Linked DNA regions of Homo sapiens. The protein of the gene in region 1 interacts with the protein of each later gene in a pairwise test. Each region holds a gene or a part of one and is shown in the gene's direction. Other genes may lie near its edges. The genes, in order: RACGAP1 and KIF23.

What was found.
Region 2: the proteins of RACGAP1 (region 1) and KIF23 interact in a two-hybrid assay, tested with the Homo sapiens proteins (one study listed by IntAct).

The regions. Positions count from the first base shown.
Region 1 is NC_000012.12:49,991,056-50,006,814, reverse strand, and holds part of RACGAP1 (rac GTPase-activating protein 1), read left to right. Parts: intron 1-178; coding exon 179-381; intron 382-1,422; coding exon 1,423-1,559; intron 1,560-2,510; coding exon 2,511-2,580; intron 2,581-4,514; coding exon 4,515-4,568; intron 4,569-5,562; coding exon 5,563-5,643; intron 5,644-7,081; coding exon 7,082-7,199; intron 7,200-7,543; coding exon 7,544-7,674; intron 7,675-9,610; coding exon 9,611-9,775; intron 9,776-12,305; coding exon 12,306-12,401; intron 12,402-12,485; coding exon 12,486-12,684; intron 12,685-14,159; coding exon 14,160-14,265; intron 14,266-14,437; coding exon 14,438-14,570; intron 14,571-14,681; coding exon 14,682-14,817; intron 14,818-15,759.
Region 2 is NC_000015.10:69,411,687-69,427,445, forward strand, and holds the start of KIF23 (kinesin-like protein KIF23), read left to right. Parts: upstream 1-2,662; 5' UTR 2,663-2,779; coding exon 2,780-2,790; exon of another isoform or gene 2,791-3,423; intron 3,424-4,307; coding exon 4,308-4,377; intron 4,378-5,696; coding exon 5,697-5,825; intron 5,826-9,960; coding exon 9,961-10,066; intron 10,067-10,305; coding exon 10,306-10,442; intron 10,443-10,639; coding exon 10,640-10,749; intron 10,750-11,472; coding exon 11,473-11,643; intron 11,644-13,595; coding exon 13,596-13,637; intron 13,638-14,383; coding exon 14,384-14,496; intron 14,497-14,649; coding exon 14,650-14,771; exon of another isoform or gene 14,772-14,970; intron 14,971-15,759.

The DNA.
Region 1 (15,759 bases):
TCATCAGAGTGACAAACATATCCAGGATCTGCTCCTAGTTATTTTCAGCTGGATTTGCCCATAGTTCAGCTGGTTCCTTAATTATGAATTTCAAATAAAGCTAACCGTAGGACTCATTTATTAGAGCAGTTATACTCTGTTTGGTGCTTGAATTATTAAAGATTCCCCCTTTCCTCAGAATTTATCCAGTTGGCGAAGGACTTTGAGGATTTCCGTAAAAAGTGGCAGAGGACTGACCATGAGCTGGGGAAATACAAGGATCTTTTGATGAAAGCAGAGACTGAGCGAAGTGCTCTGGATGTTAAGCTGAAGCATGCACGTAATCAGGTGGATGTAGAGATCAAACGGAGACAGAGAGCTGAGGCTGACTGCGAAAAGCTGGTGTGTATTGTTTTCCGTGCTAGAACAGTGATGATGCAGGAGGGGGAAGGCATTGTCTGACAGTTTCCACTTGCCAAATATACCTAGTTTCTTCTTCCACATTAAAGAACTGAAAGTGACCTGTTCTTTAACAGCTTGCCCATGATTAGAGCTGAAATTGCAGACTAGGAATCTTGTTCTTCATAATTTGAAATTTAAATGTTTTTGTCACTTAGACTTGAAACTTACTTAACAGACAGATTTCAAATGAGAACTTAAAGAATTAGAGGAAAAGGGAGGGAGGGAGATCCTAACGTACTTGATCTGTCACAAGTTATTGGCCATCCTTCATTGTTTATTTTAAGTGCTACCCGGAATATCCATCCTTACATGAGTAGCTGGTACTTTGTCATACATACAGGCAAGACAACTGTGACTCTTCTTTTCATCACCCCTCTCTAATTCAGGGTAAAAGGCTAGATGTATTCAACCAGTTGAGCAATGTGACTGACACAGAACACTATCATTTTGATGTGCCAGGATGGGTCATAATGCAAAGGAAAGCCTTTACTGGGAGGGACTAATCCATCTTGGTATACAGTGTTAGATGCCTCAGTAAACTCAAATTGTCTGGTTCCAGTGCATTATAGCTTTGTATCCATTTTAATGCATTTTGCTCCACTACTTTGAGAGGTGGGTGGCTGCTTTGATCCGTAGAAGCCAATATTTGTCCTGATAAAATGACACTAAAGTGTTTTTGCTATGTGAAATCTATTTTGGGACTCTCATTTTGCATTATTCTCCTCTTGGATTAGCAGGTTAATCCAAAAGTCTTGTAGCAGAAACTTCGCTGTTCTAGATGTAGTTCATTTTACCAGTCAGAAATCAGAGACACAATCTGGGTTTGATGTGAATTAATATGCTATTGGTGTAGCAGCCTTCCTGAAGGTCCATTTGCATAATGCTGCATTTTAATGTCTTCTGGTCTGCCTGTCCCATAAACTTGAGGTGAAGCTTTCTCCCCTGGCTAGTTATGATGTTTTACTTTGCTTTGGTCTGTAGGAACGACAGATTCAGCTGATTCGAGAGATGCTCATGTGTGACACATCTGGCAGCATTCAACTAAGCGAGGAGCAAAAATCAGCTCTGGCTTTTCTCAACAGAGGCCAACCATCCAGCAGCAATGCTGGGAACAAAAGGTGGAGGAACTGCATCTGTTGTTATCCTATCACAAGCAACACAGGCTGTCAGATATTCTTGTTATCTGAATTCTTAAATATACTTCTTCTAGAATGTGTGCTGAAAAAAGCAGAAAAAGATTTTGTGGGGAGAGTAGGTGGGGAATAAAGGCACAGGGATGTCCCTGTATATTTTATTTTATTTTATTTTTAAATCTTTCCTAAGGATGTTGTTTCACCATGGATACAATTTTGATGTTGGTGCTAAATTGCACATCAATAACTAATCCTGTGCATTGCTAAGAAACCCAAAGGTGAAAGTGGCAGTTCAGCAATACTTTCAGTGTTTACTCTCCAGAGAGCTCTTACAGCTCTTCTGGTTTAGAAAGGCCTCTGTGAGCCAAGACCAGACAATAATTTTGGTTCCACTGCACCACTGTTTAAAATAGTCTCAACCAGGCTTTGAATTTAACATCCCCAGTACAATATGTAGGGAAAGGTCAGCTATTTATTTTGTTGCCTGGTTGTTTTATGGGGAATCTTTATAACTAAGAAGATGTACAGGCTTAATTTCTTAAAAAGTCAGTGTTGGGTAATACTCTTGTTTGTAGAAACCAGCACAGTTGGGATCAAATTAAACTTCATTCCCTTGATTTTGTGAATTTGGAGTAGCCTGTAATACAAACTCGGTAGAGAATAGCACCCATAACCCTGACTAACTTTCAACTGCCCTTATAAGGTCTTTGCTGAAAAAGCAACTGTGTTGCACCTGTACTCATGCACACACACTCCTCCGTGGAAACCATACAAAGTAGCCTACCACAGGGTTTGAGATTGTAATTGTCTCTATAGTGAAGATTTTGCTATGAAATTAACTGATGTTACCTGACCAGTAGGACTTGTTCTGAATGTTGGTGAATTTTACATTCCACAGTCTACCATGTCTAACGTTGTATTGTTTCACTGATCTAGACTATCAACCATTGATGAATCTGGTTCCATTTTATCAGATATCAGCTTTGACAAGACTGATGAATCACTGGTAATAAACATTTGATCTCTGAGAATTACCTACTTTTCTTACCTCTGCTTCCCCAGGAATATCTCTCCTGTCTTCTCTTCTGAACATCCTATATTACTATTTTATTAGTTGATGTGTTATAGATTCTGAGCTAGCAATTTAAAATATAAATCCACATGAGCTATAAGAGGCTGGCTTATATATTAGTTTCTGAAGTGAGAATATATAATTCAGAATTTGGCATAAGTTGAGTTCATTTAATAGATCTCTGTGTGCCACATGTACTAACTGATTATATTTTGACTTATTAAAGCCCCAGCTAATAATAAAAATATTAGCAAGACTGTATGTCGTCAGGGTTTATTTGCTGCTCTTAAATAGACTTGTGCCTTATTTCTGAATTAGTTTGGTTCTTGGGGAAAGCATAGTCATACTTCACAATTAGAAGGAAACCAAGGTCCTGGGATTTCAGCCAGAAAAGTGTGATTAGAGTTTCTAGGCACTATATAATGCTTTCATCAACAATGGTTAACATGTTAAACTATTTGTTGCCCTGCTTTTATGGGGCGGCACACTTCTTTTAACTTACAGTGATGCTTCTGCATAAAAGGTCATCTCCTGATACAGTCTTTGATATAGTTCATTGATTTGTGCATCTTTTCTGTTACTAGCTGAAAACTAGCAAACAAAACAAATCAGGAAGTTTTTGGTGACTGGTTTTCTGGTATAGCAAAACAGGTGACAACTATTTGTTACATGGCTAGGAGTTTTCTGTTCAGATTCAGTGTTTGACCAGGGAAAATACGGCCATTTTATAGATAAAAATATTAGGCATCACCTTTCTCAAATAGGGAATGATATAGTGGAGGTCTGGAATATATAATAAAACTAGATCATATTATCAGTTGATTTTTGAGCTAGACCTATGATACGATATTTCTTGTAACTGAAGCTGAATCAAACAACCAGTAACTAAATTACTGGACCATGACTTGGGGAAGTTAAATTTATTTAGCTAAGCTATTATTTGCTGTATACCACTGTTTCTAGATACTGTTTTCAGGGATGATCAGGAGTAAGGAAATCACAGGTAACTACTAAAATGAATGCAAATAGTTAAAATAGGTGAATTGAAATGAGACCACAATAAAAGACAAATAGTTCTTCAGTGGTGGACACGTTTTAGGGCCTAAGTTCCTAAACTGTAGAACTTTTTTTTTTTTTTTTTTTTTGAGACAGAGTCTCACTCTGTCACCCAGGCTAGAATGCAGTGGCGCAATCTCAGCTCACTGCAAGCTCCGCCTCCCGGGTTTATGCCATTCTCCTGCCTCAGCCTCCAGAGTAGCTGGGACTGCAGGCGCCCGCCACCACGCCTGGCTAATTTTTTTGTATTTTTTTAGTAGAGACGGGGTTTCACCGTGTTAGCCAGGATGGTCTCGATATCCTGACCTCATGATCCGCCCACCTTGGCCTCTCAAAGTGCTGGGATTACAGGCATGAGCCATCGCCTGGCAACTGTGGAACTTGTGAAGTGGCAATATTATGCAGAGCATTTGATTAGACAGTGGCAATCCCTTGGGGGCAAGAATCACATCTAATACAATCAGTATAGTGCCTAACATTCTGTAAGTTCTAAAACTAATTACAAAAATAATCAGAAATAAAGGATCAGCCACTGGAAATATGGCAGAATTTGATTCTTTAACCTCTTCTTGCCTCTGTGGTATTGATTCCTGATTTTATTATAATAGCTTCAATTTTTCAAAGAAAGCACATTAACTTACTATAGCTCTATAGCTACAACACTTGAGACCTTCCCTTCTCTAACCCTCCCCGAATTGTACGTTAGGTAGCCTGACTGAAGAAGCCTTTAAAGTTCTCTGTAAATTTATTTGCACAGGGTTTAGGGATGGCCTAACCAAAAAAAGAAATTAATACAGTGTAATTGTCAACAGGATTGGGACTCTTCTTTGGTGAAGACTTTCAAACTGAAGAAGAGAGAAAAGAGGGTATGTATGATTTGTTTAGTCTTTTTTTAAAACAAAGTAATAATGGAGTTATTTTTGGAAATTTTGCCATGATACTGCATTCCTGTCATGTTGCTCTAGCCATTGTTAAGCACATACTACAGATGAATTCATGCTGTGGGGACAGTATTGATATTCTTTTTTTTTTTTTTTTTTCTTTTTTTTGAGACGGAGTTTTGCTCATTTCCCAGGCTGGAGTGCAATGGCGCGATCTCGGCTGAACGCAACGTCCGCCTCCCGGGTTCAAGCAATTCTCCTGCGTCGGCCTCCCAAGCAGCTGGGATACAGGTGCCTGCCACCATGCCTGGCTAATTTTTGTATTTTTAGTAGAAACGGGGTTTCACCATGTTGGCCAGGCTGGTCTTGAACTCCTGACCTCAGGTGATCCACCTGCCTCGGCCTCCCAAAGTGCTGGGATTACAGGCGTGAGCCACTGCTCCCAACCAGTACTGGTACTCTTTGAAGTAGTAACTTAGGACAGAATCCTGTCCATTTCACTGTTTAGGCTGCATTTCAATTCATTCATACAGTGGAAAAGGATAAACTTAAGTTTGTTTTGAATTGTCATATGAATTTTTACACAGAACTTTTGTGCTCTAATATAAGCTTCATATAATGGGATATATAGAGATCTATCTGTGTATGCTTGTTTAGGGTACTTAATGTGTTTCCAAGACTTCATGTCCTTAGTTAGGATTACAGCTGTACTTTTTCTGGTGGTGTCATCTAAATTTCTCCATAGCTTGCTCATTTTTTCTAGGGCACTGAGAGCATTTTTGTACAACATATTCTTTTGAAACAGCTTATTCTTCATGTGGAAATAGGCAAAGAGAGAGAGAGAGAGAACACATTGTTTGTTATTTACTGTAGCCCTAATCCCCAGGACCTGTATCCAAGTTGTTTGATGGAATAATTTTATCTTCTGTGCTTCAGATCTGCTTGGCATTAAAGTTACGGGTCTTTGTCTCCTTTCTAGCGCTCTACTAGCCGACAGTTTGTTGATGGTCCCCCTGGACCTGTAAAGAAAACTCGTTCCATTGGCTCTGCAGTAGACCAGGTAAGAATAGTCAGGCCAAGGTAACAGAGATTACTGGCCCCAAGCATTAAAACTTCTCTGAGTCAGCATTGCAGCATTGTTTTGAGAGACATGATGTTTAGTTAAAGTTTTTGTTTGTTTTTTGAGACAGAGTTTTGTTCTTGTAGCCCAGGCTGGAGTGCAATGGCACCATCTTGGCTCACTGTAACCTCCACCTTCCAGGTTCAAGTGATTCTCTTGTCTCAGCCTCCCACGTAGCTGGGATTACAGGCGCATGCCACCACGTCTGGCTAATTTTTGTATTTTTAGTAGAGACAGGGTTTCATCATATTGGTCAGGCTGGTCTCGAACTCCTGACCAGGTGATCTACCTGCCTCAGCCTCCCAAAGTGCTGGGATTACAGGCGTGAGCCTCCGTGCCTGGCCTTTGGTTAAAGTTTTTCTATGCAGTAGGATCCTTATCCCTATGAATGGAATTACTCTGATGTAGTAAACAACTGTCAGAGTGAGTCTTAGTTGCTTGAATATATACCCCCATGACCTATGTTTATCTTCTTAGGTACGAGATTTCTTTATTTTTACTTTTTAAAGTAGAGGGGGAGTCTCTCCTTGCTGCCCAGGATGACTCGAACTGCGGGGCTCAAGTGATCTTCCCACCTTGGCCTCCCAAAATGCTGGGATTGCAGGCATGAGCCACTGCACCCAGCCAAACATCAGATTTCAACATAAGAATGTTTCAGGTCAGGCGTGGTGGCTCACGCCTGTAATCCCTGCACTTTGGGAGGCCTAGGCAGGTGGATGATCACCTGAGGTCAGGAGTTCGAGACCAGCCTGGTCAACATGGCGAAATCCCGTCTCTACTAAAAATACAAAAATCAGTCGGCCAGGCGCGGTGGCTCACGCCTGTAATCCTAGCACTTTGGGAGGCTGAGGCGGGTGGATCACGAGGTCAGGAGATTGAGACCATCCTGGCTAACACAGTGAAACCCCATCTCTACTAAAAATACAAAAAATTAGCTGGGCATGGTGGCAGACGCCTGTAGTCCCAGCTACTCGGGAGGCTGAGGCAGGAGAATGGCGTGAACCCGGGAGGTGGAGCTTGCAGTCAGCCGATATTGGGCCACTGTACTCCAGCGTGGGCGACACAGCGAGACTCCGTCTCAAAAAAAAAAAAATCAGTCAGGTGTGGTGGCGCATGCTTGTAATCCCAGCTACTCAGAAGGCTGAGGCAGGAGAATGCCTTGAACCTGGGAGGCGGAGGTTGCAGTGAGCCGAGATCACGCCACTGTTCTCCAGCCTGGGCGGTAGAGTGAAAAACTCTGTCTCAAAAAAAAAGTATCAGACTGGGGTCTTAAGTCTTGACTAAGACTAAGGAATTTTTTACCTGCTCCAAAATACCCTATAGTGGAGGGTAAGTTAGATTCTTTGTTTGTCTTTCCTCATTACTACTTTTGTTGCAGGGGAATGAATCCATAGTTGCAAAAACTACAGTGACTGTTCCCAATGATGGCGGGCCCATCGAAGCTGTGTCCACTATTGAGACTGTGCCATATTGGACCAGGAGCCGAAGGAAAACAGGTCCATTGAATTTGTGACTAAACTGGCCTGTGTAAAACAACTAGCAAAATTTTGGAGAGTTGGTTTCTTAGAACCCTCTGGAGGCGGGGATTGGATGTATTGGGTAGTTTCTTACTGCTGCATACCGAGGACCAGAGAACTGCTTGTGTCATGCTTTACCTTTGAATTGCTAGCCCACTGGCATAACTTTAGTTTTTCTTGAAACTGTTTTTTTACATAGCCATTAGTTCTCACTTTTGGCTATGATAACAGATTACTGTTTATCTCCCAGTTAAAATTGGAGCTAAAATTTAGAAGGAGCAAAATACTTAAGACACAAAGCTTAAAAGTTGCTTGTTTTCTAGGTACTTTACAACCTTGGAACAGTGACTCCACCCTGAACAGCAGGCAGCTGGAGCCAAGAACTGAGACAGACAGTGTGGGCACGCCACAGAGTAATGGAGGGATGCGCCTGCATGACTTTGTTTCTAAGACGGTAAATCTGTGATTGTTGTTTGTGTTTTAATTTTTTAATTGTGAAAGTAATAAATACCAGGAATAAAGTTAAATACTTTAGTGTTATAAAGTTAAATGTCAAATTTCCTTCCTCATTCCAATTTTACTCTCCAGAAGTAACTATTGGTTACAGAGGTAAGTTTCTTTCCATTCTGTGAGTAATACTAAATTAAAGAGACCAACTTTTCTGAAGCAATTGTTAGTACTTTTTTTTTTTTAATTTGAGACAGAGTCTTACTCTGTCACCCAGGCTGGAGTGCAGGGGTGTAATCATAGCTCACTGTAGCCTTAACCTCCCAGTCTCAAGCAATCCTCCTGCCTCAGCCTCCTGAGTAGTAGGGATACAGATGTGTGCCACCACGCCCGGCTAATTTTTAAATTTTTTGTAGAGACTTGGTCTTGCTATGTTGCTCAGGCTGGTCCTGAACTCCTGGGCTCAAGTGCTCCCCCTGCCTCAGCTCCCAAAGTCCTGGGATTACAGGCATGAGCTACTGTGCCTGGCCCATTGTTAGTACTTTTTAGTGACACATGTTTACATTTTTTCTTGAATATATCACCTAAGATTTTCAAAATGTTTTGCTTTTGTACCATTTTATTTCCTTATAAAAATCCAAGCAAATTAACTGAGGCTCAGAGGAGTTAACTGACATTTTTGAGCCACATGATAGTAAGTGACAGATTTCACATCCAGGTTTTCTTTTTTTCTTTTTTTTTCTTGAGACAGAGTCTCACTCTGTTGCCCAGGCTGGAGTGCAGTGGTGCGATTTCGGCTCACTGCAACCTCTGCCTCCCGGGTTCAAGCAATCCTCCTGCCTCAGCCTCCCGAGTAGCTGGGATTACAGGTGCCCACCACCATGCCCGGCCAATTTTTTGTACTTTTAGTAGAGATGGGGTTTCACCATGTTGGCCAGGCTGGTCTCAAACTACTGACCTCAGGTGATCCTCCCGCCTCAGCCTCCCAAAGTGCTGGGATTACAGGCGTGAGCCACCATGCCCTGCCAACATCCAAGTTTTCTGCTCTTTGTAAACAAGTTCTTTCCACTATCACACACTGCTGCCTTCCAGTGGGATGACCTTAAACAAGTTACTTAAACTCTCTTTGCTTCTGTTTCCTCATCTTAAAATGAAGAAAACAAAACCTATTTTATGGGATTACTGTGAGAATTACATATGTAAATATGTCTAAAGGGCTTAGAAAATTTTTTGGCACATACTAAGTGCTCAATAAATGTTAGTTGATTATGGCTGGGCACAGTGGCTCACGCCTGTAATCCCAGCACTTAGGGAGACTGACGCAGGCAGATCACCTGAGGTCGGGAGTTCGAGACCAGCCTGACCAACATGGAGAAACCCCGTCTCTACTAACAATATAAAAATTAGCCGGGCGTGGTGGCGCATGCCTGTAATCCCAGCTACTTGGGAGGCTGAGGCAGGAGAATCGCTTGAACCCGGGAGGTGGAGGTTGCAGTGAGCCAACCTCTACCACGCCATTGCACTCCAGCCTGGGCAACAAGAGCGAAACTCTGTCTCAAAAAAAGACAAAAAAAGGCCAGGCCCAGTGGCTCACGCCTGTAATCCCAGCACTTTGGGAGGTCGAGGTGGGTGAATCACAAGGTCAGGAGTTCGAGACCAGCCTGGCCAACATGGTGAAACCCTGTCTCTACTAAAAATACGAAAAATTAGCTGGGCGTAGTGGTGGGCACCTGTAATCCCAGTTACTCGGGAGGCTGAGACAGGAGAATCGCTTGAACCTGGGAGGCAGAGGTTGCAGTGAGCTGAAATCACACCACTGCACTCCAGCCCAGGCGAGAGAGTGAGATTCGGTCTCAAAAAAAAAAAAAAAAAAAAGTTAGTTGATTATGATGATAATTTTCTAATTCATATCACTCTGTTCCTTCTGCCCTGTTTTATCCCAGGTTATTAAACCTGAATCCTGTGTTCCATGTGGAAAGCGGATAAAATTTGGCAAATTATCTCTGAAGTGTCGAGACTGTCGTGTGGTCTCTCATCCAGAATGTCGGGACCGCTGTCCCCTTCCCTGCATTCCTACCCTGATAGGAACACCTGTCAAGATTGGAGAGGTATGACTTATGCAAGCCGTCATTGTTTTATGGCCTCTTTATTCGCCTTTCAAAGGCTTAGTGTCAGTTTTTGTTCTAAAATTAATCATCTCAAATATATTTCTTTCCACAAATAATGACTAGAATTGTAAGATACTTACTTGTAGAAGAGTCCTGTTTGGGTTTGTCTGTCTAATACCTTTCTAAACCAAACTTCTTTCCCCGCCCCTTTTTCCTTCTTGCTCTTCCCTGCTTCTCCTTGCCTCTTCTTCCTTCCTTCCTCCCCTTCATCCCATTTTGGAAAATTTCAGACATATATAAAACTAGAGAAATTAGTATAACTAACCCCTGGTTCTTATCACTTAACTTCCATGATTACTAACTTGTGTCCATTTTTTTTTTTTTTTTTTTTTTTTTTTTTTTTTTTTTTTTAGCTCTATTGCCTAGGCTGGAGTGCACTGGCAGGATGTCAGCTCACTGCAACCTCCGCCCCCCTGGGCTCAAGCGATTTTCTTGCCTCAGCCTCCCAAGTACCTGGAATTACAGGCATGTACCACCACCATGCCCGGCTAATTTTTTTTGGTTGTATTTTTTAGTAGAGATGGGGTTTCATCATGTTGGCCAGGGTGGTCTCAAGCTCCTGACCTCAAGTGATCCGCCCACCTCAGCCTCTCAAAGTGCTGAGACTACAGGCGTGAGCCACCGCGCCTGGTCATGTCCATTCTTTTTTTAATGTCTCTCTTTTTTTTGAGACAGAGTTTCCCTGTTGTCCAGGCTGGATTGCAGTGTTGCAACTTTGGCTCACTGCAGCCTCTGTCTCCTGGGCTCAAGTGATTCTCATGCCTCAGCCTCCCAAGTTGCTGGGACTACAGCCATGTGCCACCATGCTCAACTAATTTTTTTGTATTTTTAGTAGAGACGGGGTTTTGCCATGTTGGCCAGGCTGGTCTTGAACTCCTGACCTCAAGTGATCCGCCTGCCTCGGCCTCCTAAAGTGTTGGGATTCTAGGTGTGAGCCATGGCACCCAGCCTTTATGTCTGTTCTTGATTTATCAATACTGTCGTTGCCTCCTCCTGACTCTGTCCAATGAATTACTTGGAAGCAAATCTCAGCTATCATATAATTTTATCTGTGATAAAATTATCTTTTATTCTTGCTCTTATGTTAGACATACTTCATAATAGGTTATCAAAATGAAGTTGCTTATTTCCAAATATTTAACCAGTTTAATCCAAACTGATTAAATCCATTAAGAAATTATTTATTGCTGAGTGTGGTAGCTCATGCCTGTAATCCCAGCACTTTGGGAGGCTGAGGCAGGAAAATCACTTGAGCCCAAGAGTTTGAGACCAGCCTGGACAACAAAGCAAGACTCCATCTCTACAAAGAATAAATAAATAAGTTAGCCAGGTTAGTGGTGTGCGCCTGTGTTTGTAGCTCCTCAGGAGGCTAGGTTGGACTATTGCTTGAGGTGGGGAGGTTGAAACTGCAGTGAGCTGTGATCACACCACTGCACTCCAGCCTGGGGAATAGAGCAAGACCCTATCTCAAAAAAAAAAAAAATTATTATGTAAGTAACATTAGCAAGAATCAAAATGACTATCTTCCTACCTACTCTTCAGCAAATCAAATATTATTTTCCCCTGATCTTACAAGTTCTTATCCATGCCTGTACATTTTGTTTTGTTTTGTTTTGTTTTGTTTTGTTTTTGAGAGGGAGTTTTGTTCTTGTTGCCCAGGCTGGAGTGCAATGGCGCAATCTCGACTCACCACAACCTCCACCTCCTGGGTTCAAGCGATTCTCCTGCCTCAGCCTCCCTCATAGCTGGGATTACAGGCATGCGCCACCATGCCTGGCTAATTTTGTATTTTTAGTAGAGACAGGGTTTCTCCATGTTAGTCAGGCAGGTCTCGAACTCCTGACCTCAGGTGATCCGCCCACCTCGGCCTCCTACAGTGCTGGGATTACAGGCGTGAGCTACCGCACCTGGCCGCCTGTACATTTTTTTTACACATGTTCTGTACTCTAATATAGAACCATGGAGTTCTCCCCTACAGGTAGGTTTGTGTCATAATCAACTGATAAGATATGTTAAATAATTTTTTTTACTGAGAATAATGAAAGTATACACAATTTTTTTCTCTTGTTCCAGCTTTCTTCTGTTAGAAAAAAAAATCTGTTTAGAGTAATAAATTATTTTATATTAAAGGCTATACCTGTAACCTCATTATTGCTTGTTTTCTGCTGTCCTTGAGTGGATGAGAAGGAGGTAATTATAGCTGGTGGTCTTATTCCTTGTTCACATAACAGTGTGGTGTATATATGAAAAAGAAAAAGTGTGGTATATATGATAATAAATCAGTCCTGGTGTGGAGGTAGGAAAAATAATTGAGAGTCTCTGTTTTAATATATGCTTTGGGAATAGGAATGTAAAAGTAGACATGATGTCCCAGTTTGAGAATAAGATTGGAGGTGGTTCTTCGCATGTGGTCTTCATCTGTTGGTCTACATGGCGTAAATAATAATTTAAAGCTCTTTTTTTTTTCCAGGGAATGCTGGCAGACTTTGTGTCCCAGACTTCTCCAATGATCCCCTCCATTGTTGTGCATTGTGTAAATGAGATTGAGCAAAGAGGTCTGACTGAGGTAAGAGTCAACTGTAGGAGATGGTGAATTTGTTATTTGTGTTAATTCGGAGGTTTTTAAATAAAAATGTCATCTTGATAATAGACAGGCCTGTATAGGATCTCTGGCTGTGACCGCACAGTAAAAGAGCTGAAAGAGAAATTCCTCAGAGTGAAAACTGTACCCCTCCTCAGCAAAGTGGATGATATCCATGCTATCTGTAGCCTTCTAAAAGACTTTCTTCGAAACCTCAAAGAACCTCTTCTGACCTTTCGCCTTAACAGAGCCTTTATGGAAGCAGCAGGTAAGGGCAGATGTAATACTTGAATATGAATTCCTCCACGGCAGTAGTTTTTCTTACTCTCTTTATTTTTTTATTTATTTTTTATTTTTTAGACAGAGTCTCACTCTCGCCCAGGCTGAAGTCAGTGGCGCAATCTCAGCTCACTGCAACCTCCGTCTCCCAGGTTGAAGCGATTCTCCTGCCTCAGCCTCCTGAGTAGCTAGGATTACAGGCGTGTGCCACCATGCCTGGTTAATGTTTTCTATCTTTAGTAGAGATGGGGTTTCACCATGTTAGCCAGGATGGTCTCGATCTCCTGCCCTGTGATTTGCCTGCCTCGGCCTCCCAAAGTGCTGCGATTACAGGCGTGAGCCACCGTGCCCAGCCTCTTTTTTTTTTTTTTTTAAGACGGAGTCTTTCTCTGTCGCCCAGGCTGGAGTGCAGTGGCGCTATCGGCTCACTGCAAACTCCGCCTCCTGGGTTCAAGCGATTCTCCTGCCTCAGCCTCCTGAGTAGCTGAGATTACAGGCGTTAACGGTGTTATACCATGTTAGCCAGGCTGGTCTCAAACTCCTGACCTCAGGTGATCTACCCACCTTGTCCTCCCAAAGTGCTGGGATTACAGGCATGAGCCACCACACCTGGCCACCTTCCTCTTTTTATTAGCTCCTGCCTAGTACAATGCCTGAAACATAGTAGGTGCTCAAGTAGTTTGATGGATGAGTAACTGTATGCGTGTCACCCTTGCCTATCCTCTTGCTTTCTCATTACGTTATTGTGTACAGTGTTCTTCCTTTCTTTCCTTCCTCTCCAGTTAGGTTGGAGCTTTTTCAATTCTTAGAATATACCAAGTTTACTCCCTACCTTAAGGCCTTCACATTTGTTGTCTCAACCTGAATGCTCTTACATTAGATACAGTATGGTTTGCTCCTTTATTTCTTTCATATTTCTCTTCATATACCTTGTCCCCAGAAACACCTTTCCTGACAACCTTGTCTAGATTAACAGCTCTCATTTCTTTCTAGCTTCTTGCCTGCCTTGTTTTCTTCATTTATGTATCACTCTACCTGATAGGTATTTGCTTTTTGACTGACTCCACCAATAGAATGTAGGTTCCATAAGATAAGGGCTTTGTTTACTTCTGCTTTATCCTCAGCACTTGTACCTGGCACATCGTAGGCCCTTAAATATGTCTCATGAATGAATACCTTCTTGGTAATTGTAGTCACTGCAATTGTATGCCTGTCTGCCTAGCACATCAGTTGCCAACTGCTTTCCCTAACTGCAAAGGCCGATTTTTTAAAAGTTTTGACTTCTAATATTGAGCTGTTGGCCAGTATCCTGCTTGTTAATGAAACTAGAGTCTGATGTAGTCATGAACTAATCAGGAGTTTCAGAAGCTTACTGTATAGATGAGACTTTGTGGTCGATAACTTGGAAGCCCGCTGTCAAGGGAAAGAAGTCTAGGCCTCTTGGTGCTTTCTTTTCAATTACAGAAATCACAGATGAAGACAACAGCATAGCTGCCATGTACCAAGCTGTTGGTGAACTGCCCCAGGCCAACAGGGACACATTAGCTTTCCTCATGATTCACTTGCAGAGGTGAGTACAGCAGAAACTTGTTCTGGGAGTTAGGGAATTTTTTTCCAAGGGGAAGATAATGTGGGTTGAGTGTTTGGGAGTATGAGGGATGAATTGTTTTCTTATAGAATTTATATTTTGGTCTGCATTTAAGCAAGGAGCAAGACTTCTAATTTAATATTCTTTTGCTTAGAGTGGCTCAGAGTCCACATACTAAAATGGATGTTGCCAATCTGGCTAAAGTCTTTGGCCCTACAATAGTGGCCCATGCTGTGCCCAATCCAGACCCAGTGACAATGTTACAGGACATCAAGCGTCAACCCAAGGTAGGCAGGTGCGTGTGTGTGTGTATGTGAACTTGTGTAATGTGATAACTTGAAAGACAGTTGAGAAGCCCTGAGCTTTGGAAGTTTGCTAACAGATTTGCTGGCTTTTAGGTGGTTGAGCGCCTGCTTTCCTTGCCTCTGGAGTATTGGAGTCAGTTCATGATGGTGGAGCAAGAGAACATTGACCCCCTACATGTCATTGAAAACTCAAATGCCTTTTCAACACCACAGACACCAGATATTAAAGGTAAGGCCCAAGATGTGCTTCTTCAGGGACTTGACTCTCTCTTTAGTTTTAGTCATATGACCTCTTCCTGCCTTTGCTAGAGCTGTTTGAAAATTCTAACATTAAAGGAAAATTTGTATAATTCTACCATCGTAATTTTTTTTTGCTTTTCCATGTTCTCCTTTCTTTATCCATATGGATATATGTTTTTTAAATATAGATATAATAGGCTGGGCATGGTGGCTCACACCTGTAGTCCCAGCACTTTGGGAGGGAGGCTGAGGCGGACGGATCACAAGGTCAGGGGATTGAGACCATTCTGGCCAACATGGTGAAACCCCATCTCTACTAAAAATACAAAAATTAGCTGGGTGTGGTGGCGCATGCCTGTAATCCCAGCTACCAGGGCGGCTGAGGCACAAGGAATTGCTGGAACCCAGGAGGCGGAATTTGCAGTGAGCTGAGATCCCGCCACTGCACTCCAGCCTGGTGACAGAGTGAGACTCTGTCTAAAAAAAAAAAAAAAAAAAAAAAAAAAATATATATATATATATATATATAATAGTTTAAATATAATTCATTCTTATTTCACTTAGCATGTTGTGAGAACTTTTTCTCATGTATAATCTTATTTATCATTTACTTAAATGTTCTAGTAGGTATTAACATTATTTTTCAATTTTTCATAATTACAAGTAATGCTATAGTCAATATAGCATTTCTCTTAATGATAAATTCCTAAGAGTGGGATCACTGAATTAAATGGCTTGAACATTTTTATGTGTCTTGGTATGTTTTACCAACTTGATTTATTAAATTTCTTATAGGCTTTTGCCAATTTATATTGCTAACCAACAATTTTATATGAATAGGCTGGTTTCACTCCAGTCTCACTGGCATTGGAGACCCATTCTTTCATTATTGCAAGTTCCTTCTAAGGGAGCATATTGCTTCTTCTAGTAT
Region 2 (15,759 bases), on another chromosome or scaffold:
TGGATCACTTGAGGTCAGAAGTTCAAGACCAGCCTGGCTGAGGCAGGAGAATTGCTTGAACCCCGGAGGCGGAAGCTGCAGTGAGCCGAGATTGCGCCACTGCACTCCAGCCTGCGTGACAGACTCCGTCTCAAAAAACAAAACAAAACAAACAAACCAACAAAATACCAAACTCTAGCTTGACAACAAAGTCCTAATCATTCAAAGACTTCAACATAGGAAGCAAAGCAATAAAAGCACTAGGAAACAAAAAATGAGAAATAAAATAAAAAACTCAGAATGGATGTATTTTTCCAGTATGACACAAAACAGAAGCCATAAAAGAAAAGACGGATTAATCTGTCTACCTGAAATTTTTTCCAAGCTGTCACAAAACATATACAAATAAAAATAACCAAAATGTGAAAAATAAAAGTATTTAAACTCGTATTTTGGATGAGGACCAATTTTTTTTTAATATAAGAACTTTCACAGATCATTAAGAAAAACGAACAACCAATAGAACAAAGAGGCAAAGAATATGAACACAGTTGATAGAGAAGGAATCAAAAGGGCTCTAAAATATATGAATAGACAACATTTATCTGAAAATAAATGAAAAATTTAACTACATGTTTTTTCTCACCAATTGATATGAGATATCAATAGATTGGTAGCTACTGAAAAGTTTGATAACACTTTGAGAATTGTGGAGAAATAGGCACTCTCATACAGGCTGGTGGGAGTGTACATTTGGACAGCTTTTATGGAGAATGATTTGCAATATCTGTGAAATGTTACACATATGTATACTCTTTGACTCAGCAATTCTGTTTCTAGAAATGTTTCCTACATATTTACCTGCATTGTATAAATTTCCACATTCATTCACTATAGCTGTATCTGTAATAGGAAAAGTTGGAACCATCCTAATGTGCAATGTAGGGGTGGAAAAGGTGTGATACTTTTCTTTACCCATCTTAAGGGTCACAGCTGACACTACCATAACAAAAAACAGGTTAGCAAGATAAATGGATAACTTATTGAATCACAGTTTTATGGGATGTAAGTGCCTTCAGAAATGAAGACCCAAAGACCCAGGGAAAGCTGTCCATTTTTATGCTTAGATGAGATGAAGAATGGACAGCTGTGTAGAAATGTGATTGTACAAAAGGAGTATGATCTAATAGTAACAGACTGAAGGAGGAATCCAGCAAGTCCTGTCTGTTCAGATTCTTCTTGGCCTCTCTGTGCAGCTTTCCTTCTTCCTGAGTGTAGGGCAAGACCCTTTTGGAACGAGGGTCTTATGACAAGGTACATCAAAGAATGTCTTTATGGCCAGCTCTTACACAAAAAGGTGGGGGAAGGCTAGATTAATATTTCTAGGTTTTTCTAGAATAATGTTTCTGGCTTGCTTGGGAGAAAAGGGGTTCTAGTTTCCATGACCCGCCTTGGGGAACAGAAATTCTGGTTTCTATTATTTGCTTTAGGAGACACAGAGGGGTGGGAGACAAGAGGGCAGGAGAAAGTCAGAGACAGACTTTGCTTTTAAGGCTTCTCTGAGGCACTTTCAGTCTTCTTTAGTTCAAAGCACTCAGTGTGCCAAAGAGCCATACTCTGGGGTGTCGTTTCCTGAGCACCAACAATATTGGCCAAGGACATTGTGACTATCCTTACCAGTGCTGTGGTCCTTTAGGAAGTTGAGAAGGGGCTAGAGTTCCATGAGAGCCCAGGTGTAGATGTGTATTTGGTAGTCATCGGCTTAGGGTCAAAGACAGAAGTGATATAGAATCAGTTCATCTAAGGCAAGAGTAGGTTCAAAAGGTTGCCCCTTAAGGGTAAGGACCAAATTTTATTCATCTCCGTAAGGCCAGGATCAAACACAATCAAGATTTGATAAAACAGGCCGGGCGCAGTGGCTCACGCCTGTAATCCCAGCACTTTGGGAGGCCAAGGTAGGCAGATCACCTTAAGTCAGGAGTTCTAGACCACCCTGGCCAATATGGTGAAACCTCATCTCTACTAAAAATACAAAAATTAGCTGGGCGTGGTGGTGCGCGCCTGTAATCCCAGCTACTCGGGAGGCTGAGGCAAGAGAATTGCTTGAACCTAGGAGGTGGAGGTTGCAGTGAGCTGAAGACTGCAGTCCAGGCTGGGCGACAGAGCAACTCCACCTCAAAAAATAAAAAAGGAAAAAAAAAAGATTTGATAAAATAATGTACATATAGGACAGAGCTGGAGGGAAACCCAGGAAAGGTGAATCAGAGAGAGAAAAGACGCCAAGATAATGTGGTGACTTGGGAGCCAGAGAGACGGAGCCTGAGACTTGGAGCAGGGCACAGCACAGGAATACAACACTTTTCACCAGAACGACATTCCGACCTCTGAATCAACCCTGGAAAGGCCCTTCCATTGAACTTCTTGTGATGGAGGAAAAGAAACCCTCAGTTTCGTCATCGCAAGGCGGAAGAGTTTAAATACCATACCTCAAGATCTCCCTCCAGCCCTGACACGCGACTCCGCGGCCCTTTCAGCGTCGGTCGCCTAGGAGACAAGCGCCACTTCCGGCAGCGAAGTCACTTCCGCGGAGGTCCTGCCTCTCCCTGCGGACGGGCGCTGATTGGCCCGTTTGAAATGCGCCAGGCGGGAGCTCACCTGGGCTCTTAGCGTCGCCGCCGGCTTCGCAGAGCACCGCGCCTTAGCCGCGAAGTTCTAGTTCTTGCTGCCGGTCCTAACGTCCCGCAGTCTTCGCCAGCCAGCCGTCCCGCATGCGCGTTTGGGCGGCGTGGAGCCTGCTGCCATGAAGTCAGCGTGAGTACGAGGCCGCCGAGCAGGGAGAGAGGGCGGACGGGGGCCGAGGCCTCGGGGCTGGGGGCAGGCGTCTCCACTCAGGCCGCGGCCGTACGCGGGCAGCGCGGACAGCATCCCGCCCGGTGCTGCTGCGGCCGCGACCCCAAAGTGGGAACCTCCACGTGTGGCCGCTCCGCGGGAGCCTGGGCGCGGAGACCCCTGCCGCGTCGCCCCCCGCCGCCCCGCCTGGGCCTCCAAGGGGCCAGGAAGGGTCGGCCCGGAGCCGGGGTTGTTTTACGCCGCACCCGGTTCCCGGGGGCGGGGCAGTCCTCCTCGGGGTCCCGGGACAGCCTTTCCCTTCTCCCTCGCTGGCTGCCGCCGCCTCCAGAGTGCAGTTGGCCAACTTAGTGCGGGTCGGAGGTGGTCTCGTGTGTGGAGCAGAGCGAGTGTGCTGGGCATTGGTTAGATGGGCTCCGTTTCTGGAGAGCCCTGGCACCGGTGATCGCCGCTAGCTTTTTTTTCAGCCGAGCACCCTGTCCTTGAGGCCGAGCCCATCCGCTTACACAGGCCAGTTACTTCTGCTGTATTTTGTGGCCGCAGAGAACCTCCGCCCACATTCCTAAGCTAATATTTTCGGCGCAGCATCATTCCTGGGTAAAGAAATATTTGTCGTGCAAAGGAGAGGATTGGCTTTATTACCATTTAGGGAGTCGTTTGCAAAAGACAACTTGTTTATTAAGAGGCCGAAGTCAAAATCTTTAGATGAAAAAAATTATATATAAGAAATATACGTTGAGTTTAACTTAAGCCCACCACAAAGTATTTTGCACTGAATAACACGAATTTGCTTGTGTTTCATCTGAGAATATGTTTGGAAAAATATTTTTAAACTACAGTCGAAGCCAATAATCTTACTTAATTTTAATGTGTTAAATGTATATCTAGCCTATAGATAAATGTGAAGGGAAAAAGATGAGATGCTAGAGAAATGGTGAAATCAATCAAAATAACTTTTTGATTGCCCCTACTTAAGAAACCAAGAAATTGGCAGTTTGGGACCAGATTTTGTTTGGAGACAAAGAGTAATGTTTTGAGCATTCAATGACTGGTTGTTCCTTGAAAGTACAGGCGTAACCCTTGACGAAAGAATGGTTTCCTCCATGTGCATTTTTATAGTGTATTGAAGTTAATCGCTTGTCAGTCTGTAAAGTGTGGGCAGTTATAATTTGTAGTGCCTCTGTTAAATTGTTGCTCAAGAAAATATGCAAGCCATTTTAAGTATAGAACTAATCAGAGAATAAGTAGGTAGCTTTGGTACCAAAAATGTATTCTAAAGCAAATTTTAATTACTTTTGGATTACGCATGCCACAAACACTCTGCTACTATGATTATTAATGTTATTTGGGATGCAGTGTTTTGCAACTGCTAAGGGATAATTTACAGATAACCTAGAAAGATTGTATAAGTTTTAGGTGAGGCTTTTGTATTCGTGTTGAACTGAAAAAAAAGTTATTATTATTTTTTAATCTATGACCAGGAGAGCTAAGACACCCCGGAAACCTACCGTGAAAAAAGGGTCCCAAACGAACCTTAAAGACCCAGTTGGGGTAAGGTATCCCTGTAAATTTATGTGTGGTGTTTAAGAAACTTATCTCTTCAGTCCTTTCTGTCTTATGTGTATGCTTGGAAGGGAAAGAAGAAGACATGTGGAAGTATAATCAAAGAACATTTAGTTAAATGGATGTACTACATTGTGTAAAACTAGTGCTAGCTGTGAAATTTTCTCTATAAGATTAATTAAATTAGTCCAGTAAAATGAAGTCTTTGGTTGTCAACTGCATACCTTCTGTAATTATAATTTGGAGAGTTAGATAATTAAAAATCTCCAACTGGGTTCATATTCATCCCAGAGAATATGAACTGAGTTCATGCCATACAGTAACTGATGGCATGAGGAGAGTTCCAAACTTCTTGGGACCAAGTTTAATTCAGTTAAATTATGAAGAAAAAATGAAGCAGGCAAAAAGAATAAGAATTTTAAAACAAAACAACAAATGGCAAACAAAAAGGGTTCTTTGCTCTGAGGTATTTTAAATCTATCCCTCGTTGCCACTGGAGTGGGTCCCTGGCTCTGAGTTAAGGGAACCGGGTGCTTTGCACACAGCTGAATGAGTTTTCCTCAAGCCCCCTCCCCTGCTTTCAAAAATGTCTCTGTAGGCTGGGTGCGGTGGCTCACATCTGTAATCCCAGCACTTTGGGAGGCTGAGGCGGGTGGATCACCTGAGGTCAGGAGTTCGAGACCAGCCTGGCCAACATGGCGAAACCCTGTCTCTACTAAAATTACAAAAATTAGCTGGGTGTGGTGGTGGGTGCCTGTAATCCCAGCTACTCGGGAGGCTGAGGCAGGAGAATTGCTTGAACCCAGGAGGTTGCAGTGAGCTGAGATCATGCCATTGCACTCCAGCCTGGGTGACAAGAGAGAAACTCTGTCTCTAAATAAATAAATAAATAAAAATGTCTTTGTATATTAAATGTTGGGTTAAGCTGACAAGTTTTTAAATTGACATCCATTTCCAAGAAATTCTAACAGTTTTAAAAATCTCGTGTGACATGTTGTTGACTTTTAGAGATATTAGTAGTAGTATAACTATTATTTGTGTACAATATAATAGTGAATACACTGCAATTTGATTTTTATTAAAATTTATTTTAATTTTGTGTGTATTTAAAGTATTCTCATATCTAATACATACTTGTATTTGTCAATCTCAAGTAGCAGATTTTAATTTTCTTAGCCCTTGGAGATACAGAGCTCTTAAATTGAGAGACTGAATGTTTGTTGAATGAATGAATGAATGAGAAGCTTAAGTGAAAAATCAGGCAAAAGGTCGAACTTTCTTCTTAAAGCACCTTCCTATTTCTTCAGGTATACTGTAGGGTGCGCCCACTGGGCTTTCCTGATCAAGAGTGTTGCATAGAAGTGATCAATAATACAACTGTTCAGCTTCATACTCCTGAGGGCTACAGACTCAACCGAAATGGAGACTATAAGGAGGTAATTCTGATTTGGACCAAGTTGTTTTTACTCAATATGTTGTTTCCTGAATGACTTCTAGATTTTTAGATGTAACAAAGTTCATTTGTGAGCCCACATTTTCAAAAGACTTATTTACTTCATTATAACCACTGTATCTAAAGTGTTTTTGACTTCTGGGATGCACAGACATACCTTTGGTATGCTGGGGTTAGAGGATTGCTTTTAGCAGATAATTTCTTACACTGAGTATTATTGTTTCTTAGAGCATGTGTTAGGGATGATTTAATGTGGAATGATACATGATTGTGCTAGGCAGTTTTATATATACAACTTGATGTGTGGAAATGAAAATAACATTTAATAATAGACATTGTTTACTTGCATCAACCTCCTATGCAGTGTTTTTATTTTTAGTAAAGTTTTGAGTCAGCTCAAAAATATTGTTTAGCAAATGTGCTAAGCTAATAGTTGGAGGGTGGAAGGAGATTAAAAAAAAGAGCATGACATACTCCTTGCCTTTAGAAAGTTTATAACTTAAGATATATGGTAAACAAATAATTCTCATATAAATAAGACAGAAAGTTAGATGTGCTAAAGATGAGGGGACCGTGGGAATGCAGTAGGATTAATTCAGGCTACCATTTCTACTTCTAGCTGTCACTCACTCTTTTGTGCCTACTATTCCTGTGAAATTGCTCTTCAGAAGACTACCAGTGGCCTCTTTGCTGCTAAATTTGATGTATACCTCTTCATCCTCATTTTAACCTGTTTGTCAGCAGCACTCTCCTGTCTCCCCCTCCAGCTCTCCTTGTATCTCCAGCTGAAACCTTTTCTCTGGCTCTCAACATTCAACCACTTACTTGATATCTCTGCTTGGATGTCACATGTGCATCTCAAATTTTACATGCCCAAAAAGGAGTTCTTGATTTTTCTTATTCCCTCTCTAAATACTTCCTCCCTTGTTTTCTTCTCAAGGAATGGCACTATCGTGTGTCCAGTTGCTCAAGCCAGAAACCTGGTACCTACCTTTTACTTGCCTCTCCTTATAACTAGTTCATTAGTAGCTCCTATCAGTTATATTCCAACATGTGTCTTGAAACTGTCCTTTCATTTCCATCTCCACTGCCACCACCCTAGTCTGAGCCCCATTATTAATCACTGAGACCAGAGCTACTGTAATGAAGGAGTAGCTTTTTTATTTTTAATGCGTCACAGCTGAGACTTTTGTACAACTTGTGCTAGATGGAACTGCCCGTGTGAGTTAGACAATAGGGAACTAGTTCATAATCTCTTCATAGAGATGAGCCTATTGAATACATGCTGAAATACTGATAATTGAGCAGTGCCAGATGGAGGCTCATGCCTGCAGTCTCAGCACTTTGGGAGGCCAAGGTGGGTGGATCACCTGAGGTCAGGAGTTCAAGACCAGCCTGACCAATATGATGAAACCCTGTCTCTACTAAAAATACAAAAATTAGCCGGGCATGATGACGTGTGCCTGTAATCCCAGCTACTCAGTAGCCTGAGACAGGAGAATCACTTGAACCCAGGAGGCGGAGGTTGCAGTGAGCCGAGATCGCGCCATTGCACTCCAGCTTGGGCAACAAGAGTGAAACTCCATCTCAAAAAACAAACAAACAAAGAAACAAACAAACAAAAAACAACTTTCTAAACATTTAAGTAGTCTGGTAACCAATCTCAGACTGGCATTGGTTTGCTGAGTGTGCTTTGGGTATCATTGACAAGACTTCCAAAGCCCAACTGCCTCCACTTGGAATCTTCTCTAATCCATTTCTACAGAGCAGACAGTGATCTTTTAAAACATAAAATCTCATTTTCCTGTTCAAAACCTTTCAAAGAATAAAATCTTTGAACAGACAAAATCCTGCTTCATCCGTCTCCCATCTGTCTCTCCACCTTCATTCATCTTTTAGTATTCATCCAATCCTTTGAGTTTCTTGGATAAGGCAGAATCCTGGCTGTTAGCTGTTGCCTTAACCTGGACTTCTCTTTTTCTGGGTCTTAGCATGGGTCATCGTTGGGTTTCAGCTTAAATATCACCTCCTCGGGTTGTATAGACTACCCAATCAGAAACAGCACCCCACAACCCCTCTCCCCTGGTCTGTACTCTGTATGCCTCCTTTACATTACTTAACCACAATCTATTTGTTTACTTGTTTATTGTCTTTCCTCTACCATAATGTAAACTTCCAGGGAATATGTACCTTATATGTTCTGTTCATCAAATAGTAAATATGGCTTCAGCAAGAATGAATGGTCTGGGAGGGTTTTTTGGAGGAGCAGGTCTTTAAGGATATAATATAGTTAAACACTGATTTACTGAGTTTTACTTCTTTAAGTAAATTTCAAGTATGTATAAATATAGGTATCGAGTAGGTATCGAGTAGGTATAAAAAGGTTTGATGGGGATTAAAAATAGTCACTGCTTTCTGACAGAAGGCAACATTGTATAATGAAAAGAGCATTGCTGCCGGGCATGATGGTTTACATGTGTAATCCCAGCACTTTGGGAGGCCGAGGCAGAGGGATTACTTGAGATCAGGAGTTCGAGACTAGCTTGGCCAACATGGCGAAACCCCATCACTACTAAAAATACAAAAATTACCCAGCGTGGAGGCATGCGCCTGTAATCACAGCTACTCGGGAGGCTGAGGCAGGAGTATTGCTTGAACCCAGGAGGCAGAGGTTGCAGTGAGCCGAGATCCTACCACTGCACTCCAGCCTGGGTGACAGAGTGAGACTCTGTTTCAAAAAAAAAAAGAAGAAAACAAAAACATTGCACTGATGATGGCTTTGATACTAATTAACTCCATGGGCTCAGAGAAGTTTCACCTTCGGGCCTCAGTTTTCTTTACCTTGAAAGGAGGGAGTCATTCATGAGGACTGTGAGGTCATCTATCTTCTCAGTATTAGCCTATGTGTATCCTTTCAGTTCCAAGATTCTTTGTTCTTTTTGAACTCTAAAGCTGATTTTTACAGGATATTTTATTAATTGTATTTAGAGAGCCTTGATAATTGAAGTATTCTTGCTTTCTTAAAGGTCACAATTTATTTAAAATGTATTTCATGTAAGAACTCAGAGATGAGATAATATTTACAGTTTACTTCTGGTTTTAAACTATAGTACATCAAAACGTGGTATTATGCTGCTATGCCATTTTATTTTATATGTCTTTTTTCTTTTTCTTTTTTGAGACAGGGTCTCACTTGTTGCCCAGGCTGGTGTGCAATGGTGTGACCACAGCTCACTGTTTTTTGGTGAGGTTTTTTTGTTGTTTTTACTTTTAAAATTTTTTATTAGATGAGCTTGCCCAGGCTGGTCTCTTAACTCATGGCCTCAAGTGATCCTCCTGCCTCAGCCTTCCAAAGTGGGATTATAAGTGTGAGCCACTATGCCCATGCTTTGCTATTTTAAATGACACCTTTATAAAGAAAAACTAGGAAACAGTAAAGTTGTGTATGACATAATGCTTGTAGATTTCCACAAATCTGTGACTATGAATCGTTACAATACCTTTTGATCTCTGTCACTTAATTAAAACAAAATCAGCCTTAGATTAGAAGCATTAGTAGACTTAAGACTTTTCTACATTTTTGGCCAGGTGTGGTGGCTCACGCCTGTAATCCCAGCACTTTGGAAGGCTGAGGTGGGTGGATCACCTAAGATCAGGAGTTTGACACCAGCCTAACATGGTGAAACCCGTCTCTACTAAAAATATAAAAATTAGCCAGGTGTGGTGGCACGTGCCTGTAATTCCAGCTACTTGGGAGGCTGAGGCAGGGGAATCGCTTGAACCCAGGAGGCAGAGGTTGCAGTGAGCCGAGATTGTGTCATTGCACTCCAGCCTGGGCAACAAGAGCAAAACTCTGTCTCAAAAAAAAAGAGTTTTCTACATTTTCTTTAGTAGTTGTGACTGAAAACGTTTACCAGTTTATAATTGGTATGATATAGGTATGTCATGACTTTTTAGTAACTAAATAACTAAGGGTTCCAACTGTAAAAAGACCATTTATATTTTTTCTTTGCATGCTTAGATCTTAAATGTCATAAACACCTTAAGTTTAAGGAGATGTATTTTTAGCCTAGATAATAGTGGAATTCTATTTAGTGCATTTTTTTCTCTCTCCACAGACTCAGTATTCATTTAAACAAGTATTTGGCACTCACACCACCCAGAAGGAACTCTTTGATGTTGTGGCTAATCCCTTGGTCAATGACCTCATTCATGGCAAAAATGGTATGATATGACTCTTGGAGTTTTGTTAGATTTTCCTTTTTCTCCTCTTCTGATAAAACTTTTTTGATATTTATATATTTGATTTATGTTTGGTGTTGAATCCATATTTAATTTGTTAGGGTGGTGCTAAACTTGCCTTTTTTGAGCTGGCTAATTGTTAGTGTTTTCTAATGCAGTGAAGAAATACTCTAAGTGGAGAACTTCTAAGATATAACTCATTGTGACTTGCTACACTGTAGGTCTTCTTTTTACATATGGTGTGACGGGAAGTGGAAAAACTCACACAATGACTGGTTCTCCAGGGGAAGGAGGGCTGCTTCCTCGTTGTTTGGACATGATCTTTAACAGTATAGGGTCATTTCAAGCTAAACGATATGTAAGTATGATTCTTTTGTGTTGTGACTATCTTACTGGACTAAGACACCTATGGATACAGTAGTAGTAAAGAAGAACCAAAGCACTGGATTCATTTTGAAACCTTAACTGTTCCTTAGTTTTTAAACATATTTCTTACTATTTAAGTTAAATTCTAAAAAACGTGGTGTGATTTTTTTTTTTTTGCCCCCACTTCAGGTTTTCAAATCTAATGATAGGAATAGTATGGATATACAGTGTGAGGTTGATGCCTTATTAGAACGTCAGAAAAGAGAAGCTATGCCCAATCCAAAGACTTCTTCTAGCAAGTAAGTAATTATATTTGTCTGCAGCACTGGCCTAGGGGCACAGGATTCTTTCCTGTGGTTTGCCCAGACATGAGGAATGGTGAACATTAAATAGAGAAGTTGACTTTTGTGAGATTAAAGTTAAGGAATGTTCTTAAGTTCTTTGCTCAGATGTTTTCTCTTTGGCTTTGAGCACATTTTGTTTCAATCACTGTTTTAAGAGGGTGCCACTCTGGATGGGGAGAGGGTATAAAAGCCATTGTTGTGTGTTCGGGAGGACGTGGGAATACTGTTGGCAAACCATGAGTATGAATAAAGCTGCTTTGTGCATTTCTGCTTGTAATTGCAGATATTTATTTTATCTGTTAGTTTCCCCTTGGGATCAGTTACTTTTTTTTTTTTTTGAGACAGAGTCTCACTTTGCTGCCCAGGGTGGAGTGCAGTGGCATGATCTCGGCTCACTGCAACCTCTGCCTTCCAGGTTCAAACGATCCTCCTGCCTCAGCCCCCCTAGTAGCTGGGATTAGAGGCACACGCCACCATGCCCGGCTAATTTGTATTTTTAGTAGAGACGGGGTTTCACCATGTTGGCCAGGCTGGTCTTGAGTTCCTGATCTCAGGTGATCCGCCTGCCTCGGCCTCCCAAAGTGCTGGGATTATAGCTGTGAGCCACCATGCCCGGCTGGGATCATTTACTTTTAAAATGGACTTATAACGTATACAATTGAACTTTTCTTTTTTTAGACGACAAGTAGATCCAGAGTTTGCAGATATGATAACTGTACAAGAATTCTGCAAAGCAGAAGAGGTTGATGAAGATAGTGTCTATGGTGTATTTGTCTCTTATATTGAAATATATAATAATTACATATATGATCTATTGGAAGAGGTGCCGTTTGATCCCATAAAACCCAAGTAAGTAATAAAGAGAGCCCCTTCTTAGCTGTTAATGTTGGGGAAGTTACTTTGCCTCAAGGAGTTTTAGTTTCTTCAGTTATGAAAGAGAATAATGCTTGCATTTGTTTTCAGAATGAAATGATATAATTTGTATATCACGTGGTTTTGTGTTTGAGTATGTTTATTATTAACTAGATATGTACCTGTATTAGGGAACTAGTGGGTTAAAGCATCTAAGGAGAAGAGGGACCCAAATATTCATCTTGGAGATTACTTTTGAAAACTCTGGGCCCTGGGCTATGTTTTGAGAAGGATCTTAATTATATAATTAAGAACGTTTCAAGAACCTGAGACAGTAAAAGGAGTTTTGTAGGCTCTTTAACCACCCGTGTCTTGGTGATTTCTACAGACTGGAGCCTAAAGCTGTTATCTATACAAGTAATACTTACATATCTTCTATCATTCATTAATATGGTATGATATCTGCACTGTAATTCCATCAGAGTTGAAATACTACTTCCTAGATTTCCTTGGGTCTTGCCTTTCTGAGACGTAAGACTGGTTACCACTTGGCATCACAAATGATAAATCTGCATTTGTGCCAGAGTTGACCCTGGGATCTTATGTTTAATATTAGTATCTTGTTCCTGAGTTGATGGTTTTGTTTTTCAGCTAAAGGCTTGTCTTTAATGCTGTCTTTATTAGGGCCTCTCAGGACATAAATAATACGAAGACCTGTGGCTTATATTTAACTTTGTATATCTAAGGGAACATTATTGGAGAAACAGCTGGATTTAGAAAATCATTAGACTGAGAATACATACCAGTATATCCACTTTTAATTACATGAAGAATTTATGGACTCTGGTTGAGGCCATACTTGATACAAGCATTTCTGTGGTTCTTAGTGAGTCACATTTTGATACAGTTATCTTCACCAGAGTCCTTGAATTTTCATCACGTTTATTGGGAAAACAATTACAATATGGCTAAGTAAGCTAAATGTAAAAATATTAACACTCTTAATACTAAGAGTTTATGCCAAGGAAGACTCTTTGGCTCTGTTTAACATTTCTTCAAGTGAGAACTTTACAAAGGGACTTATTTCTGGAGTGACCTATCTATATTTACCCTTGGAATGTTGGTAATAGTAAAAATACTTGGGTTAGGTTGTGGAGCAATACATGGAAGAGTTAAAACCTTGTGAGACAGTTACTTTTTATTTATTTTTGAGACAGGGTCTTGCTCTGCCATGTCAGCTCACTGCAGCCAACCTCCTGGGTTCAGGTGATCCTCCCGCCTTAGCCTCCTAAGTAGCTGGAACTACAAGCACAAGCCACCATGCCTGGCTAATTTTCTAATTTCTTGTAGAGATAGGAGTGATAGGGGTCTCACTAGGTTGCCCAGGTTGGTCTCGAACTCCTGGCCTCAAGCAGTCCTCCCACCTTGGTCTCCCAAAGTGCTGGGATTACAAGTGTGAGCCACCATGCCTGGCCTGACCATCACTTTTTATATCAAACTAATTACTTTCCCATTTGTTTTAAAGTGTCAACTGTCTTGACTCTAATCTTGAGTATACCCATTTTCATGTATGCTCGTGTGCCAACTTTTTGTTTGGTTTGTTCTAAATGAGATTATTTTCAAAGGATCATATCTTGGCTTTATTTAGTTATACAAAAGAAGATTGACAAAAGTACCTTGTGTGCTTTGTAACCTTTCTGGGTAACTCCTTAAATGAACATACAAGGGTGCTTGTTTGGCCCTGAATTCAGATTTAATTTGTTAGGTTGGTGTTAGACCTGCTTTTTTAAGCTAGTTAACTTTTAGTACTTTTAATACAATGAAAAACTATTACAAGTGGAGGGTTTTTAAGATATGACTCATTGTGATTGTCACATAGTCTGGACTGAACATGTTGGTGTGAGATGGCTGCTGTAGAAACAGTAACTTCTACCTTATTCCTTTGGTAGGTGGAACAGTTGCAGCACACCCATGAGGAACACAGATTTTGTGTATGTGATGGTGTTGGCTCTTTTCTTAAGGAGAAGGGTGCAGTTATACTATGGTTGGCATTCTGTGGCATGTTTGCATGTAGGTTATTTTCCATTGTCACTGGGCTGGCTGCTGTCTCTAAGCCCTCCTTGCTTCCTGAAAAATCTGCTATTGACTATCAGTGATGGTGGCTGGTAAATGTCTCTACCCTCACCATTCACAAGACTTAAGACCAAACAGGTAGCTCTCATACCCAACCTTCATCTTGTCATACAGACTAAAACTTCATAAGCCACTTTGAAAGGATTGCCACTCCTGGTATATACCAAACTCTTTCTGAATTTGTTTTCTGCTGTTGCTGAGGAGGTCAGAACTGGTTCTATCTGCTAGTCTTTTCAAATTAGGAAAATACTAGATTTTGATGCTTAACCTGTGCATGTGATGTTGCTGTAATACTACTTTGGTCTCTAAATTGTTTAGTGTATTGTTTCATGTGCTTTCTTAGAGCAAATTAGAGCAAAGCTTTTAAAACAAAATTGGTTTCTGTTATCTTGTTACTTAACTAATCTTGACTATTTAGCTTTACAATCTTATCTAAGTTTAATATTTCTCTGGAGTATTATACGTTATATATATATTATAAAATATATATAATTTTCATTAGAAGAATAACATGTCATGTCACTTGGCGTTTTAGTCCTAGTCTTAAATGAAGATACCAGCATCTCATAATTTAGGAGACTAATCTTTTTTTTCTTTCCCATAGACCTCCACAATCTAAATTGCTTCGTGAAGATAAGAACCATAACATGTATGTTGCAGGATGTACAGAAGTTGAAGTGAAATCTACTGAGGAGGCTTTTGAAGTTTTCTGGAGAGGTTAGAAACACCTAGAACTAGAAAAATACAGAATGATGAATATCACCTAGAGTTGCTACTAAGTTTGATGGCAATTTTTTTTGACTTATTAGAAAGCATGTATAATGAAATGACTGAGTTCAGGTTTGACCAATGATTTCTCTGTTGTCCTAGGCCAGAAAAAGAGACGTATTGCTAATACCCATTTGAATCGTGAGTCCAGCCGTTCCCATAGCGTGTTCAACATTAAATTAGTTCAGGCTCCCTTGGATGCAGATGGAGACAATGTCTTACAGGTAAAGTTGTAGTATGTGGAGTTTTTCTGGTTCTAACTCTATCCTTAATTTTTGGAATTAGAGTAATCCAGCCAACATGGCAAAAACCTGTCTCGAGTAAAATTGGAAAAATCAGCCAGGCATGGTGATGCACCACTCCTGTAATCCCAGCTACTTGTGTACCTGAGGCAGGAGGATCGCTTGAACCTGGGAGGCAGAGGTACAGTGAACTGAGATCGCGCCACTGTAGTCCAGCCTGGGTGACAGAGTGAGACCCTGTCTTGAAAAAAAAAGTTAAATTAGAGAGGTTTTATTGCAATGAAGATTGCTCTAGAATAAATATACAGTTGGTTCTCTGTATCTGTGAGTTCTACATCTATAGATTCAACCAACTGTGGATTGAAAATATTCGAAAATAAAATGCTGCATTTGTGCTGACCATGTACAGACTTTTTTTGGTCATTATTCCTTAAACAATACAGTATAACAACTTGTTACATAGTGTTTACATTGTATTAGATATTATAAGTACTCTAAATATGATTTAAAATATACAGGAGGGCTGGGTGCGTGCGTGGCTCATGCCTGTAATCCCAGTGCTTTGGGAGGCCAAGGCAGGAGGATCACTTGAGGCCAGGAGTTTGAGACCAGCCTGGACAACAAAACAAGACTCTTGTCTTTGCAAAAAAATAAAATAAGGCTAAAAAATAAAAAAATAAAAAAATAGAACTTTAAAAAGTGTATGGGAGGATGTGCATAGGTCATATGAAAATACTACACCATTTTATACACAAGATTTGAGCATCCATGGAATTTGGTATCTGTGAAATTTAGTATCCATAGGAGATCCTACAACTAATCCCTCGAGGACACCAAGGGATGACTCTGTATGTAGGCGATGACATTAAAACTTTTTTTTCCCCATTATTATAGTTTTGGGAAGCTGGATATCGAATCTTAGAGCCTGAATTTTGCTGTGAAAAAAGTTTGCAAATCTTTAAAAATCCCT